2 separate regions of the Homo sapiens genome follow, and region 1 is linked to region 2. The links come from fine-mapping of genetic effects on gene expression. A gene starts in region 2. The other region holds a variant in brackets. All regions are shown on one strand. Distances are from middle to middle. Region 1 overlaps CYP27C1 (cytochrome P450 family 27 subfamily C member 1). Region 2 holds the start of MYO7B-AS1 (MYO7B antisense RNA 1).

Region 1 (4,383 bases), 450 kb after region 2:
GGCCGGGTGCGGTGGCTCACGCCTGTAATCCCAGCACTTTGGGAGGTCAAGGTGGGAGGATTGCTTGAGCCAGAAGTTCGAGACCAGCCTGAGCAACATGGTGAAACCCTGTCTCTACCAAAAATACAAAAATTAGCCGGGCGTGGTGGTGCACACCTATGGTCCTAGTTACTCGGAAGACTGAGGCAGGAGGATCGTTTGAGCTCAGGAGGTTGGGTCTGCAGTGAGCTATCTATGATGGCACCACTGCACTTCAGCCTGGGTGACAGAGTGAGACCCTTTCTCAAAAATAAAATAAAATAAAATAAAATAAAATAAAATAAAATAAAATGGCTGTATAAGAATACTTTTCTCTCCACAACGAGTGCTTAATTTTCTAGTCATAATGCCTAATGAAGTTGACTATTAGTTTTTATTTGGAAGAAATAAATAATAAATAAATAATAAATAAATAAAAAAGAAAGCTCCTGGTGAAATCAAGAATAATCAGATTTTCTAACCAAATCTAAATACAGAGTAGAGCAGACGTATAAGAACTGGAAATATGATGACGTAAAATTTTGTTGCCTAAGTTGTGAGAAGTAATAAAACAGGCAGCATGGAAAACAATGTAACTTTAGAACATTTTTATTTCAAGGGAAAATAAATACATAAATAGAGATGCTACAGATACAACAATATTTTTATCTTGATGGTGTTGTTTTAAATATCCACACAAGAACCCTCACCCAGTTGTGTGCCTGTGCCAGGCTCTCTGGGAAGCCGTGGCTCCGGGAGTGCTGGGTCCTGAGGAGTTCTGTTGCCTTTCCTGCTGCTCACCGGTTGCTAAGAGGAAACACCGTGATTTCCTGATGCTCTTGCCTTGTCATCATGCCTGAAACAGCTTATTCCCAATTCTGTAATTCCTTTTACATAATCCTTCTCCAAAAATTACTTTCTTACTAATATAGACCATACAGTTTTTTTTCCATTTAGTAAGTCACTCTGCAAAATAACCCTTAAGTAAATAGACATAATATCCATTTCACATACCATTTTTGTTAAAGTATATAATAAAGTTGAAATCTCTGTGTGGTAGCAGAATAACTCTAGTATGAATGCTGTAAATGTACAGGTAAATGTGAAATTAGGTCATATTAACTGGCCAAGTGTTGGATTGATTACTTTGAGGTAGCAGTATACGTATATTAAGTTTTATAAACTAGATGAAATTGCATTCTGTTTGAGACTGAAATTTAAAAATATTGAGAATAACTAAGCGACTTGAAGTGACCTCTTATTCCCTGGGTATACATACAGTGTGACCCTCTCGTGAAGTGTGGCTCTGCCTGGGGATCAGCACAGGGTGAATAGCAAAGTGCGGGCTGGGGGTAGCACCTGTGCCCGCTGCTGAGTCTCACTGAACAGGAAGGGAAGCAGCCAGACACGGGGGCCTCCTGGTGTGATGTAGCAGGAAGTGCAGGGCGCCACCCAGGAAGCATCCACGCCAAAGAAATGGAGATTCAGCTGGACAAGTTTCTAGGTTCGCTACTGGTTTATAGGAAATATGTGGTATACAGGGAGATGTCAAAACTCCATGGGGGCTGGGCGTGGTGGCTCACACCTGTAATTTCAGCACTCTGGGGAGGTTGAGGCAGGAGGATTGCTTGAGGCCAGGAGTTTGAGACAAGCTTGGGCAACACAGTGAGATCCTGTCTACTAAAAATCAAAAAACTTAGCTGAGTGTGGTGGTGCATGCCTGTAGTCCTAGCTATTTGGGAGGCTGAGGCTGGAGGATTGCTTAAGTCTGGGAGGTTGAGGCTGCAGTGAGCTGTGATCCGCCATTACACTCCAGCCTGGGTGACAGAGCAAGACTTCATAACAAACAAACACACAAACAAACTCCATGGGGATGCAGTCAGCAAAATCCAGAATAGAGTGAGGTCTATAGGACCAATGTCTCGGGTTTCCAACAAAACAAATACGTGACAGGCAAAAAACAAGAGGAGGGGCCAGGCGAGGTGGCTCATGCCTGTAATCCCAGCACTTTGGGAGGCCAAGGCGGGCGGATAACCTGAGGTCAGGGGTTCCAGACCAGCCTGGCCAACATGGTGAAACCCCATCTCTACTAAAAATACAGAAATTATCCAGGCATGGTGGCGGGCTTCTGTAATTCCAGCTACTTGGGAGGCTGAGGCAGGAGAATTGCTTGAACCTGGGAGGCAGTTTGCAGTGAGCTGAGATCACGCCACTGCACTCCACCTGGGCAACAAGAACGAAACTCCGTATCTAAAAAAAACAAAAACCAAAAAGCAAAAAAAAAACCAAGGGGAGAGGAGAACTGTTACAGATGAAGCAATATAGGAGACATA[T/A]TAACCAAGTACAATGCTGGACTTCGTTTGAATCAGATTCAAATAAACCACTTGTAAAAAGACATTTAAGAGATAATTTTTAAAAATAAAATAAAAGCCAAAAATATTAATTCTTCCAATGCATGAAAAAAAGAGAGCAACTCGGGGAAATTTGAATGCTGACTGTGTGTATTTGATGATATTTGGGAATTACTGTTAATTTTTTTGTTGTGATAATGGTAGTTATGTTTTAAAAAAAGAGACTTTATCTCTTGGAGATAGCTCTTAAAGATATAAATGTTTATGGCTGAAATGTTATGGCATCTTGGATTTGCTTTAAAATAACCCAGCTTGCTGCAGGAGGTGGGTATTGTGTGTGTGGGAAGGTGGGGAGGCTGCGGGAGGAAGAGATGACCCAAGATTAGGCAGATGTTGTTAACTGTGGAAGCAGGGTGGTGAGTGGGGGCTCATGACATTATGCTCTCTACTTTGTGTACGTGTGAACATTTCCGTAATAAAAGATGCCTTCAGAAACAAAAGACTGATCAATAATCTCATCATTCATTCATTTTCCATTACTATTTGCTTTTACCAGCACAACTGATTGTAAATTAGGCTCTGCGGAGAGCTCTACCTTCCCTTTCAATAGTGTTAGAGGCCGGGCGTGGTGGCTCATACCTGTAATCCCAGCACTTGGGGAGGTGGAAGTGGGAGGATCATTGGAGGTTAGGAGTTTGAGAGCAGCCTGGGCAAACAAGGTGAGTCTCTTTCTACAAAAAAATTTTAAAAATTAGCCAGGTGTGATGCATGCCTGTAGTGCTAGCTACTGAGAAGGCTGAAGTGGGAGGGTCTCTTGAGCCCAGGAGGTTGAGGCTGCAGAGAGCCGTGATCACACCATAGTACTCCAGCCTGGGTGACAAAGTGAGACCCCCATCTCTTAAAAAAAAGGGGGGTTGGTTAGAAATGATTGACTTAACACACTGCAATAGTACAATGGTTGTGCTAGGGTTTAGGGGACCTGTTGGGGCCCAGGTAGCCTTTGCAGCTGAGAAGGAAAGACAGACAAGTCAGATAGCAGGAAGAAAAGGAGAAGTGGTCCCAGCAGGGGCTTAAATGGGTCAGACCACAGGGTATGACAGCAGGGGGTGGTGGGGCCCATGGGGGCACTCCCTGCCTGAAGGTTTTCAACCTCCAATTTTAAGAATGTGCTGGGCAAATGAAAGGGCTCACCTGCTGGTCAGGTCTGGGAAGCTGGCCGGGGTTCATGAGCGAGCCAAGGGCCCAGCACAAGCAAATGCCAGCGTGAGGCGGCTCCACAGCCCCTTCCCGGCAGAGGCAAGCACACCCATCAGGAAGGTGGGGGACCAGCACAGAGACAGCAGAGCCATTTAGGTGAAAGTAAAAAGGAACTTATCAGAGGGACACTGGGCATTTGTCAAATGGAAGGACCAGCAGACCAGCCAAGCATCAGCCAGGGCCATCCAGGAATCTTAGCTCAGGATCTGGGGCCTCCCCAGCTCCTGGCTCATGTTTCTGTGGCTCTCCTGAGGGGCTTGGCCTGTGATGGACAGGTGCTCTGACAAAAGCAGGAGGGCTGCTGAGCTGGCAGCCACAGGAGTCCACTGGCCAGCATCGCCAGTTGCTGGGCCGCACGTCCTCTCTCCCGTGTGTCCTCTTTCCCTTGGGGTCCCTGCACACCTGTGTGTCATTTCTAGCCCCTCCCTCCTCCACCTCCGATGAAGACTTGGGCTATTCAGAATACTTTTTTTTTTTTTTTTTTTTTTTGAGACAGAGTCTCGTTCTGTGGCCCGGGATGGAGCACAGTGGCACCATCTTGGCTCACTGCAGCCTCTGCCTCCCAGGTTCCAGTGATTCTCCTGCCTTAGCCTCCCCGCATAGCTGGAATTAAAGGTGTGTGCCACCAAGCCCAGCTAATTTTTGTATTTTTAGTAGAGACAGGGTTTTACCACATTGGCCAGGCTGGTCTCAAACTCCTGATTTCATGTGGTCCGCCCACCTCTGCCTCCCAAAGTGCTGGGATTACATGTGCGAG
Region 2 (4,383 bases):
CCGTCCTGAGGGGGACAGCGTGTGCTGCAGGTGCCACCCCCACCCTCATCCTCACCCATGCCCCAGCCCCGATGTGGGCCCTAAACCATGTGCCAGAAACAAAAGAAAACCCCAGTGACCATCACTGGGGTGGTTCCAGCCCCTCGCATGTCCTGGGGGCTGCCCCTGGCTCCACGCGGCCTCAGAGGTAGTGATGGTGCAGCTGTGCCTGAAAGCCTGGGGCACACACGGGGAAGGGCCAGGCCAGGGGCTCCCGGGAAGGCGCCGGCAGGAAAGGCTGGCAGTATTCTTATTCTCGCACAACAGGGGCATCGGGCAGGGGCCAGGGACTCTGGCAGGGCCTCTATGGGGCGCCCACCTCTCTCTGTGACCACGGCTGCCACTGAAATTATGGCCACTCCTACAGTCAACCTGCCCTCCTCACGGCCACAGGAGGCCAAGCCAGAGGAGGCAGGAGGGGTGGGGGAGAGCAAAGACGGCCAAGGAAGAGCTTCACGGCTGTGGGCGGATGAGGGAGGCCGCATGGACTTGGAAGGATGGGCCTCTGACCTCAGCCTTGAGGGCCTGGGCTGGGGCATCCAGGTTTCTCTCTATCCCTCAGGCAGTGCCTCTGTGCCACTGCTGGGCAGTGGTGGGGCAGGGGAGCTGGTGGCTATGACTGAGCCTTCTCTTGACCCTCCTGGGCCTCACCCTCCACCCTCTTCTCTGGCAGCTCGGGGCCCAATCCTGCCTGCCAAGCTGACACTGGCTTCTGGAGAGTCCTCCCAGGACCATGAGCTCCTGGAAGGCTGGCCAGGCCCCACAGCATCCCAGGTCTGCGGGCCCAGGGCCAATGCTGGGGGCTGGAGGCACTGGGCTCACCTCAGGACCTTCTGGATTCGGCGGCTGCAGTCGGGGGCCAGCAGCTTCCCCCTCCGAGTGTCTATAAACTTCTGGGCATGGGGCAGCAGCCCCTTGCTGGGCGGGAAGAGGCCCGTGCACAGCCACAGCAGCTGCCAGCCCCGCTCTTCGCTGTGCCTGAAGGGTAGCACTTGTCAGCCGGGAAAGGCCCCTCAGGGGGCCCTGGCCAGGCAGGCACCTTGGGGAGCAGGGACGGATGTGAGAGCTGCCTGGGGTCTAGAGGGCCCGAGGGGGAGGGCACCTGCCAGGCTGCACCATGCCAGCTGTGCCAGGCTGCCCGATGCCACGGGCTTTCACACCCTCAAGATGGGGGCGGGTGGGCATTGCACCCATTTTGTGGAAGACGACACTGAAGCTCAGAGAGGTCATGGCCTGCCAGGTCACACACAGAGGGTGGGAGTGGGCAGGGCCATCCTCTCCTGCTCTGACCACCCCTAGGACATCAGCAGAGCAGACCAAGGGCCCAACCCTTCCCACTGCTGAGGCAGGAGCCCAGGCAGGGGTTCTGCCGCCACCAGCTGCGGTGTCCTCTCTGAGCCTCGGTCTGGCCTCAGGGGCCGGGATGAGGACTGAGGGTGCCCGCGTGGGCTGGCCGCCGCCCCAGCAGACCTGTTGGAGTTGTGCGTCAGCTGCTTCAGGATCTGGCAGTAGACCTCGTCCTGGAGGGCCGGGTGCTGCAGGGCCAGTGTGAAGATCTGGTCGGTGAGCTCCAGGGTGGGCCAGGCCTGCCGAGAAGGGTAGTCGCCCATGTACCGGAGGATGGGTGTGGCTGTCAAGGAGCACAGTGCTGGGGCAGCCCCACGCTGACACAGACTGGGGATAGACGCTGACCCCGACCCCGGCCCTGCGGTGAGCCATGTGTGGGCTCTGTCCCGCCACTCCAGGTTTCTCAGATCTCCTGGGCTCTCCTGCCCTAGAGCACAGCTGTAGGGCCAGGATGTGCTGGGTGCCTCTGCCCTGGCATTGACGAGGTGCAGGCAGGCTGGTGGGGAAGGATATCGACAAAGATCTGGCAGGCGATGTCCCAGAGGTCGACGTTGGCGTGGACTCGCTTGAGCAGCGGCTGTCGCAGCGGCTCGCAGGAATAGGCCCACAGGTGGCCACGGGCACGGGCCAGGGGCAGCACGGCCATGCTCACCATGTCCTTCTCTGGAGCCCTGTGAGGTTAGAGGCTGGTGTGAGGCCTGCCCTGTGGCCTTCTCTGTCCCACGCTTCTCTGTCCTCTGACACCCCTGAGTGGCTGTGGGAGGGCCAGAGCACCCCACCCTGCCGCAAGCCCCTCCTGACTCCCCTGGCCTGGGAAGGCCAGGCAGGCTCCACATGGGTGGCGTGGCCTCTCTGCAGCTCTCAGTGGGTGCAATGAGGTGGAGCGGGGCTGGGAGCAGGGGGTGCAATGAGGTGAGGTGGGGCTGGGAGGTGGGGGTGCAATGAGGCGGAGCGGGGCTGGGGGGCACCTGAAGAACTCATAGGAGAACTCCTCCAGGGTGTGCAGCTTTTCCTTGGGTGGCTCCTCAGGACGTGGCTCTGTGAACTGCCCCTCCTGAGCCGCCAGCTTCCTCTTCTCTGGTGACATGGCAAGCAAGCTCTGAAGGGGGCACAGGCCTGTGGGTGCCCAGGAGCCACCGCCCATGAGGCCCTTCCTGCAGGCTCCTCCCGGCCTGGCAGCCTCAGTGACTTGGGAGGGGTCAGGCCCAGGGCTGAACAGGCCAGGGCTTACCCACACCCCTGTCACCTGCCGTGTGACCCAGGACCATGACTCTACCTCTTGGTGCCTGTCTCCTTTCCCTTGGGAGGGTGAGTGCCAATGGCTGTGGCACCCACATCACCCGTTCTGGGGGCCACGGCACTCTGGGTTTCTCAGACCCCCAGCTCCCCAGCTCCCCTTCTCCATGGGGCCACCTCTCACCCCAGCCCTGCCTGCCTAGTCTGCCACCAACTTCAGGCCTCAGCACAAATGTCCCTCCCTCGGGGATGCCTTCCCAGACAGGGTAAGTTCCCCACCCTATTATTTGTTCCTCTCCTTGGTGGCACTTTGCACAGTTGCCATCCATGTGTCATTATCTGCCCAAATGTCTGCCCTGAGGGTGGAGCTGCTATTATGCCCAGACTCGTACCACAGGCACAGGGCACATACTCAGCACTCAGTATGTACATGTTGCAATGCCTGCCATTCCTGCCTCCGGAGAGGCTGGTCTTGGGGGCTGGGGTGGGTGGTTCCCTTGTGCAGGGAGAGACTTGAGTCCCCCTGGGTCAGAGTGTAAATGAGGCAGAGAAAGATTGGGTTTGTCCCCCGGACACCCCCATGATGGAAGAGGGAGGGAACACCCATTTATTGAGGACCTACTAAGTACCAAGAGCTGGGCTGGCACTGCACACACACCTTGCCGCAGGAATGGTGGGGGCTGCCCGGGTGGCCCTCCTGGCCTCTGCTAGGTGGGCTGCAGGCCCTGAGCTAGGCCTCCCAACTAGGCATCCCAGGACTGCTCCACCCTGACCTCGGGTACCCAGGCTGAGGACAGGGGAGCGTGCCAGTTACCAGCAGCTGTGCCGAGGGCTTAGTGACCGTGGGGATGGTGTAGAGGCAGGCCATGGGCACCAGCCCCGTCTTGCCTGTCCTGTCGTTCTGGCCGAGGGTCCAGTTCTCAGAGGCCAGCAGCCCCTGCTTCTTTGTGAGGACCAACAGGTCCCCCTTCTTGAAGGCCAGGAGGGTGGTGTCATCTGTAAGGGCAGGGAGGCTATTTGCTGAGGGCTCTGCAGGGGCCAGAGGCTGTGCTGGAATTTTGTGGGTCATCTCCTTTGACAGATGAAACCGAGGCATAGAGTGGTGGGCAGAAGACCACTCCAAGAGTGAGCGATGGTGGGACTGGAACCTCAGGGGCCTCAGACGGCTGTCACCTGCTGCAGCTGCACAGGCACAGAGCCCAGGGTGGGTGGGGGCTCGAGAGCTCTGACTGCAGCCCTAGCCCTGGGAGACCCTCGGAGGGCTGACCAGGAGCCAGGGATGAGGGAGGGGAGGATGCACAGGCTGGCAGTCCCCACGCCTGGCCTGAGTGCTGCCTGCCTCTCTAGACCCCTTCCTTATCTGGAATTTGGAGATGGCAATCCTCTTTCCCTCCTGCGGTGGCCGTGAGGACTGAATGGGGCGATAGGGCAGCACATCTCGGCTGACATTTCTCACTGCCCAAAGACCCCACACACAGCCTCTTCTGCTACATCCCAACCAGCACCCCCTTCTGAAGTCCCTGCACTAACCACACCACCCACCGCCCATGACCACCCGGCCAGCAGGCTGGCCCAGCGGGGGTCCTGGGGCTTTGCCATGCTCCCCCATAGCCCACAGACACAGCCCAGCTCTCGATGGAGTGCTGGCTTGTGGGAGAGCTGTGGCCAAGAACTAGGCTCCCACCCCCTTGAGCTGTGTGACCCTGGGTGAGCTACTTCCATCTCTGGGCCTCTGGCCTCACGTCTGTAAAATGGGATAAT

Evidence for each region. PIP is the estimated chance that this variant, and not a neighbour inherited with it, causes the effect.
Region 1: its variant is fine-mapped to the expression of MYO7B-AS1 in skeletal muscle (GTEx, PIP 0.92).

The regions. Positions count from the first base shown.
Region 1 is chr2:127,182,318-127,186,700 of GRCh38, reverse strand. It overlaps CYP27C1 (cytochrome P450 family 27 subfamily C member 1), which reads left to right. Exons shown (of 9, transcript NM_001367502.1): 9 at 1-2,869. Among named protein-coding and RNA genes, the nearest start is that of CYP27C1, 36 kb to the left of the region's middle. RefSeq lists an enhancer at 3,180-3,736. The variant T/A (reference allele first, on the strand shown) is at 2,352.
Region 2 is chr2:127,628,880-127,633,262 of GRCh38, reverse strand. MYO7B-AS1 (MYO7B antisense RNA 1) reads left to right here and starts at 2,479. Exons shown (of 3, transcript XR_923314.3): 1 at 2,479-2,888; 2 at 3,704-3,826. It overlaps MYO7B (myosin VIIB), which reads right to left. Exons shown (of 48, transcript NM_001393586.1): 35 at 3,437-3,618; 36 at 2,355-2,485; 37 at 1,900-2,057; 38 at 1,510-1,663; 39 at 862-1,017; 40 at 1-5. RefSeq lists silencers at 207-256, 357-446.